Homo sapiens: one gene and its partner. The protein of the gene in region 1 binds, or shares a complex with, the protein of each later gene. Each region holds a gene or a part of one and is shown on either strand. Other genes may lie near its edges. The genes, in order: LSM6 and SNRNP200.

Evidence for each region.
Region 2: LSM6 (region 1) and SNRNP200 share a complex: the UniProt entries of both Homo sapiens proteins name them as parts of the U4/U6-U5 tri-snRNP complex.

What each region holds. Positions count from the first base shown.
Region 1 is NC_000004.12:146,178,591-146,182,411, forward strand, and holds part of LSM6 (U6 snRNA-associated Sm-like protein LSm6), read left to right. Parts: intron 1-3,821. UniProt on the Homo sapiens protein: Plays a role in pre-mRNA splicing as component of the U4/U6-U5 tri-snRNP complex that is involved in spliceosome assembly, and as component of the precatalytic spliceosome (spliceosome B complex).
Region 2 is NC_000002.12:96,291,726-96,295,546, reverse strand, and holds part of SNRNP200 (U5 small nuclear ribonucleoprotein 200 kDa helicase), read left to right. Parts: coding exon 1-59; intron 60-2,037; coding exon 2,038-2,231; intron 2,232-2,451; coding exon 2,452-2,575; intron 2,576-3,646; coding exon 3,647-3,796; intron 3,797-3,821. UniProt on the Homo sapiens protein: Catalyzes the ATP-dependent unwinding of U4/U6 RNA duplices, an essential step in the assembly of a catalytically active spliceosome. Plays a role in pre-mRNA splicing as a core component of precatalytic, catalytic and postcatalytic spliceosomal complexes.

The DNA of each region.
Region 1 (3,821 bases):
ACCCTAAACTGTAAATACGCCAGGAGTAGGTAAAAACTTACAGGTAAACATTGCCAAGAAATAAGGATTTTCATGTCTTCTGCTCAGTGGCATAACTCAAATCACATGAGATAGATTTCTTTGCATCTGTCCATTGTATTTCTCTGAGGCTAATTTACAGCACTTTGTCACGTTAGGTATTTTTTTTCCCCAGTGCTGCTACTCTCCAACTGGATTTCTCACCGCCTCTATTGCGATTCCCCAAGATTTAACCAGAGAATCTTAACATATTCAGAAGGGCAGCTGTACCTGTGAAAGGGCTTGGGCTTTGGGGTCAGCCTTGGCTTTGCTTTCCACCTCACAGGGTTTCTCTGTAAATTGCTTATGAATCTAACTCTGGTAGCACATAGTTGGGTTAATAAAAGTTCTTTTTTTTCTTCATTCTTTTACCAAAAAGAAAAAAATTCCCTGCAGGGCACTTTGCAGATGTTTTCATACTAGACCTCTCAGTAGCTTCTGACAGAAAATATACTGCCTTTGACTTAATAGTCATTTATGAAAATAGGTCATTTAAAACAAGCCTGAGTAGGAGTCAGGGGAGGGAGAGGAGGTATAGAGAGTGATTATGACTTTAATTTTGAAAGGAGAAGTTTTACCAGGGTGACCCTGAAGAAAGGTCTTTTTCCTCTTATGTGTTTATGGTTCAAGAGACTCATCTCTTGCTTCAGAAATTGTCAGAACTGTTTCTTCTGCTTTATCCAATTTAAAAGATGAAAACTTAAAATTACTTGAGCCAAGTGATGGGAAAAATTGTGGTGTCAAGACCAATTTACTCATACAAAATGGATTTATGGGCAAGTCATTAAGTAACAGGGAGTAGCAAGGAAGCCTAATGAAGACTAATGTAAAAGATACGGCTTTCCTAAAGTGATGGATAAAATGTGTTTGAGGCAACCCATATACTCTTTTCCAAATAACCTTAGAAGTATTTTTTTTCCAAGAGGTTTAGTAGAATGTAGATATTCTAGAGAACAGATGAGAAGCTTGTGAGCCCCTCTTGTCATGTGGCTTACAGTATTTTGAGGGAGAAAAGACCCACATAAAGAATACAAAAGAGGGCATAGTGACAGGTTATAGCAAATAAAATCAAATGCCAAACTATGTGATGCCAAAAGTAGGTGAGATGGGCATCTGCACTCTGCTATGGAAAGTAGAGAGTGGAACCCAAGCAAGTTCCTGCTTAAAACCCCTGTTTCCTATCATTGACAACAGTATTTCCCCTTGCCAGTTATTTCCTAGGCTTGTTCAAATAGATTGCTGGCTCCTACCCCAGAACTACTGAGTAGAATCTCCAGCTGATCCTAATGATTCAAGTTTGGGAAACTGACCCAGAGCCTCAACTCTGTGCTCCCTGTGAATGTGGCACAGCTCCCTGCCGCAGAGGCGTCTCCTCCTTGCCTATGTAGATTTTACGTTCTACCCAGACACTTGTTCCGTGCCTTTTCTGACTTCTCTTCTTTCAGCTAGGGGGTGACGCCTTTTCCTTCAAATTCAGCTCAGGTGTTAACTTCCAGAAATTCTTTGATCTGCCAAGCCTGGGGTAAGAGAGTGTTCTCTGCCCTTTTGTGCATAATTCTATCAGAATACACATCACCTTTGTAAAATTCTGCATTTACATGTTTCTTGCCCTCTCTGGAATGTAAACTCTGAGGGCTTAAGGCCTTGTCTTTGTGTTACATTCCCCAACCCTGTGCGCCTGAACTTGACAGGTGCTCCGTGAAAGTTGGAAGTGTTGATTGCCTTCAGGAAGAGATTGATGTTAATTGGAATACAGATAAAGCATAATGGACAAGGCGTTATCTTTGGTGAGCTTAGAAGAACATATCTGTGTTTATAAAAAGGTGTGGAAAGTTAATATTAATAATACTTTTAAAATAACCTATACTGTCAAGCAACTGATAGTCAAGATTTGCATTCTTTTTTCTGACAGTTATTAACTCTTTCCAGCTTTTGCTTTTCAAATGTTTTTAATCTGAAACTGTAAATACTCTATGAGCAGATGAAATTAGTAATAATTAAAGTAGTTAATATCTCCATGAACTAGAATCACATTACAAAGCATTTTAGTGATTTTTAACACAAAATAGCTACTTTTATCTCAGTTTTATACATAATGAAACTGTGGCATAATGGGATTTAGCATCTGTGATAGGAAATGCACCTGACTCATCAGTTGAGTATCAGGCCTTCAGAGTTAATATTCTCTCTAGATGTGTTCAGCCTCAAAACAGCATGTATTCAAAATGTAAATAAGGCGGTTTATAGATGAATGGGAAGATTTGTGTATTTTCACTAAACTCATTAAAGGTACTGAATCTGTTACAGTATTTATTTTGTATTTTTTCACTTTGTACTCAGAACAGTGTAAATAAAATTACTGTGTGATCTGAGTCCTGAATGAAAAGTGGTTGTCCTGAATAGTAGTTGTAATAGTAGTTGTAATTGTAGTTATCTGTTGAGATTGTGGAGCTAATAAAATAAGCTAGAAATTCAGTGGAAAAGTTAAGTTAACATTTGTTGAGCAAAATAATTTATTGCATTTTAAAAACATCTTTCAAACCTTGGGGGCAGTGTAGATTGTCCAAATGATAGCCCAAAATTCAAAGATAATTTCTGAAATTTGTATTTTCTTTTATTTGACTTAGGATGTTGACTTTTCTTGGCTAAATAAAATTATTTTACTTAAATTATGATTGCGTTTGTTTACTCACACTCTTTAAATGAGTTTAAATTCTTCTAGATTTTAAGTTCTTTAAGGCAGAGCCTTTGTGTATGACATGTTTTTGAATTTCCTTGCTCAGTGTGTACATGTACATGTAATTTGTTGAGCCCAGTAACCTAGAGTTCCAGCTTACTACAACTGCTGATCCCGTGTGAATTCACTATGAGAACGTCTCCAAATAATCCTTCTCCACACAAACTCAGATTATTGAGTGGATGGACTTAGAATGAAATAAGCATAGTGGAAGAATGTTTAATGAAAAAATAATGGAAGAATATTTAATGAAAAAATTTCATTGAAAACAAAAGAACAGCTTGAGTTCTTGAAGGGAATCCTTAAAATATTGTATCCATACTAACTTTTAAGTCTCAGTGCTATATAGCTGCTGAATAATAGTGATGCTGAATTTGACTGAAACAGAAAAATTAATTTCTGAAATATTTTTACTCAGTTTTTGCTTAACTACAGTTTTATTAACTTACCAACATATTTTGAAAGAGAGCTATTTTATAAGAAAAGATGCGTTTTGAAAGGAGTGATGTGCAGCTTTGCATGTCTGATGCTGTTGATTTGGGTGTGTAATGCTATCTCTTTTTCTGTGTTAGACTCCTGTTATACTTGAGTTTTAAGACTTTTTTCTTCATTATTTAGAGCACATATCTGCTATAGTCCTAATAGAGTAATTAAAAATCTTTGACTGTGTTATTGACTTTCAGAAAGCTGTTTAAGGTTGTGATTAAGAGTATGGGCTGGCTATCCACTTTCTAGCTGTGTGACCTTGAGCAGAGTGTTTAATCTTTCTGTGTCTTCTTCTTCATGTGTAAAATGAGGATAAAAACAATACCTCCCTTTTAGGGTAGAGCAATTTAAATTGATTAATATATATAAAGTTCTTGGAAAAGTGCTGGCATATAGTACACTCAAAATTACCTTTAGATTATAATTCTTTTCAGAGATACCATTTAGGCATCAGTTGTTCATAAATATGTCTGTTCTATATAATACGGACTTTAAAATAGGGCTGATTTGAACTTGAATGTTCCATCACATTTGGGAACAA
Region 2 (3,821 bases), on another chromosome or scaffold:
TCATCACCCGCAAGGGTGGTGAGCGCACCTACACCCAGCTGGTGCGGCTCATCATTCTGGTGAGTTGGGAGCAGTCGTAGAATATAGAGTCCAGTTGTGTCAGGGCGGGTTTGCTGGGTTTTCATGCGAAATGTTTCTTTGCTGCCTTTTCTGTAGGCACTAGCCTTTGTAATGACTAGTCCTCCAATTCCGTAGGATGAGATCCATCTTCTCCACGATGACAGAGGTCCTGTCTTAGAAGCTTTGGTGGCCAGGGCCATCCAAAACATTATAATGACAGCTATTGTCAGCTTGTGTTTGCCATCTTATTTATTTATTTATTTGTTTGTTTGTTTGTTTGAGATGGAGTCTAGCTCTGTCGCCCAGGCTGAGTACAGTGGCACGATCTTGGCTCACTGCAGCCTCTGCCTCCCGAGTTCAAGCAATTCTCCTGCCTCAGCCTCCCCTGTAGCTGGAATTACAGGCGCCTGCCACCATGCCCAGCTAATTTTTATATTTTTAGTAGAGACTGGGTTTCACTGTGTTGGCCAGGCTGGTCTCGAACTCCTGACCTCGTGATCTACCCACCTCAGCCTCCCAAAGTTCTGGGATTACAAGCGTGAGCCACTGCGCCTAGCCTGCCATGTTATTCTTTATATATTTTTTTATGTCTGAAATATTTTACTACACTTGATCTTAAGCCAAAAGGCCAAGAAGCTATGTCTGAAATATTTTGAAACAAATGTAAACAGATAGACAAAAAACCATCATATCCAACATCATTTAGGGTTTTATAAGTAAAAGAATCCATTCTCTGAGGGAATGAGTGAGGAAGCAGGATATTGTATTCCATATACACAGAAACTTCCAGAGATTAGTGACTAAGTCTGAGTATAGTTTAAGTTGTCTGGGAAAAGCAAGAAAGGAGACTTCACGTGTTGGTTTTCAGTGTTCTGGAGCAGGGGTTGGCAGTCTGTGGGTACTGGCTTTGTTCTGTTGGAACATAGTTACACCCATTTGTTTATGTATTGTTTACAGCTGCTTTTGGCTGCAATGGCAGAGCTGAGTATTTGCAATAGGGGCTGCGTGGGCCAAAGCCTGAAATACTGACTGTCTGGCTTTTTTTTTTTAGACGGAGTTTCACTCTTGTTGCCCAGGCTGGAGTGCGATGATGCAATCTCAGCTCACTACAGCCTCCGCCTCCCGGGTTCAAGCAGTTCTCCTGCCTCAGTCTCCCGAGTAGCTGGGATTACAGTTGCCCGCCACCATGCCCAGCTAATTTTTTGTATTTTTAGTAGAAATGGGGTTTCACCAATCTGATGGCCAGGCTGGTCTCGAACTCCTGGCCTTGGGTGATGCACCTACCTCAGCCTCCCAAAGTGCTGGGATTACAGGCGTGAGCCACTGCCCCCGGCTTTTTTTTTTTTTTTTTTTTGAGATGGAGCATCTGACTTTTTAAAAAAAACATTTCTGGTCCCTGCTTTAGAGCTTTGCTACTTGAAGCCTGATCCATGGTTGGGGTCATAGCAGCAGCAGCATGGAATAGGAGCTTGTTAGAAATGCAGGATTTGTGGCCTCACCCCACACCTGCTGAATACAATCTCCTTTTTAACAACATCCCCTGGCTTTGGGATACTTAATAAAATTTGAGATGCACTGCTTTAGACTATTCAAACTCATCATTTGATGTGTGATAGCTTTTGTTCTTGGGAACTATAACTGCCAGAGGTGAAGCTTCTGATCAGATCATATTTATATCCTTTTTCATAAAGAAGTTTACCTTTAAGTAAAGTTTAAACTCATTTATCTGAGTTTCAGAATTTCTTTATACAAAGTATGTTACTGAACTGTACCAAAGCAACTCATGGTCAGAGTCTGTTACTTTCTGGAGTATTTCATGGGAAATATTGTCTCCATCCTTTGGGCATCTGTGGCTTGGGATCCCTTGTCTTTTTTCTTAGGCATATTAGGTTATATGCCTACAATATGGGACAATTCCAGGAAAAGGGACTATGTATCTCTAGTGCTAGAGGTAATTTCTGTCCTCCAATTCCGTAGGATGAGATTCATCTTCTCCACGATGACAGAGGTCCTGTCTTAGAAGCTTTAGTGGCCAGGGCCATCCGAAACATTGAGATGACCCAAGAGGATGTCCGACTCATTGGTCTCAGTGCCACCCTACCCAACTATGAAGATGTAGCCACCTTTCTACGTGTTGACCCTGCCAAGGGTCTCTTTTACTTTGACAACAGGTATCAGGAAAGACTGGGCAAAGTTCTGCCAAGGTGACCATCCTGCTCTCTTTCCTCTTTTCCAAGGAGTGCTACTGGGTTGGGTTTTAGAAGGGCCTTTGGGTTTTGATGTGGTGTGAATCATAAAGGAGGAATATTGCTCTTGGGGCAGTGAAAAAGACTGTTTATTCCCACAGTATTTTCTGCCAAAGCCTCATTTGTCTAACTGTTGAACTTCTAGCTTCCGTCCAGTGCCTCTGGAACAGACATATGTGGGTATCACAGAGAAAAAAGCTATCAAGCGTTTCCAGATCATGAATGAAATCGTCTATGAAAAAATCATGGAACATGCTGGAAAAAATCAGGTTTGCCCGTGGTTTATGGTTACTCTTGAACCCCATTCTTTCGAATGTTTGATTCACCAATAATTGGGGAAGATTGACAGAAATTAAAAGAGAGAAGACACAACATAAATCACCAATATCAGCTATGAAATGGGATATTACTACAGAACCTATAGCCACTGGAAGGATAATAAGGGAATACTATGAGTAATTTTATGCTCATAACTTTAAAAATTCAGAAGAAATGGACCAGTTCTCCAACAACTACCAGTTAACTAGCAAAACTCAGCCCAGATGAAATAGATAACATGAAGAGCCCTACAACTATTAGAGAGTTGGAGAATTAAAAATCCCCCCAGCAAGCAATCCCCAGTCCCAGATAATTGTTTTGTGCATTCGCATTATCCAGGGTCCCTCCATAAAAGATTTGGGGTCACTTACACTAAAAATGCAAGACAATAAAAAGAGGAAAATGAAAAACTAGAGGGCATTTTACTAGACAGTGTGATAGAATTTTTAAATTGAAAGTCGAGTTGAGCAATGTTAACTAACAAAAAATAAGGAAAAGTGACTGGTTTTGTATTTCTTTTTGTCTGATGAAAAGAAGCATATGAATTTATATGAAGAGACAGATCTTTTCTTGGCACTAAATACTAGGAAGACTTCATTCCCTACAACAGTGTACTAGTCTCAGACTTATTTCCTAAATCCTTTTATAAGTAGTGTAATGTTTTAGTTGTTATTTTGCAGACACATTTTCATGCAGCTTTGACTCTTGTTAGGTGCTTGAACATAAATTCTGAGTTGAGAGGCCCGAATTTGTAGTTGTAGTCTATTTAAAGTTGCTGTTCAAGATAGGATGTTGAAGTTGGTTTAATTTCTCAGCTCCAGGACTGTGAACTTGGTGGGTGCATTCCCTTAAAAGTCTTTCCAGCCGTGTTTAGGCTTCCTCTGAGCCTGCACACATTCCTGCCCTTGCCCCTCTCCAGGACCTTGGCTTCTGGTGGTGATGGTGCAACTTCTGCTTCCTGCTGCAGGTGCCCTGGGGCTGTGAGTATCTCGTGACTGTAGCAAACTGTGGCTTCTCCTTAGGTGCTGGTGTTTGTCCACTCCCGGAAGGAGACTGGAAAGACAGCCAGGGCCATCCGGGACATGTGCCTAGAAAAGGACACTCTGGGTCTGTTTCTGAGGGAGGGCTCAGCCTCCACAGAAGTCCTGCGAACAGAAGCTGAGCAGTGCAAGGTGAGGAGGGGCCAGCTGGGTTCTC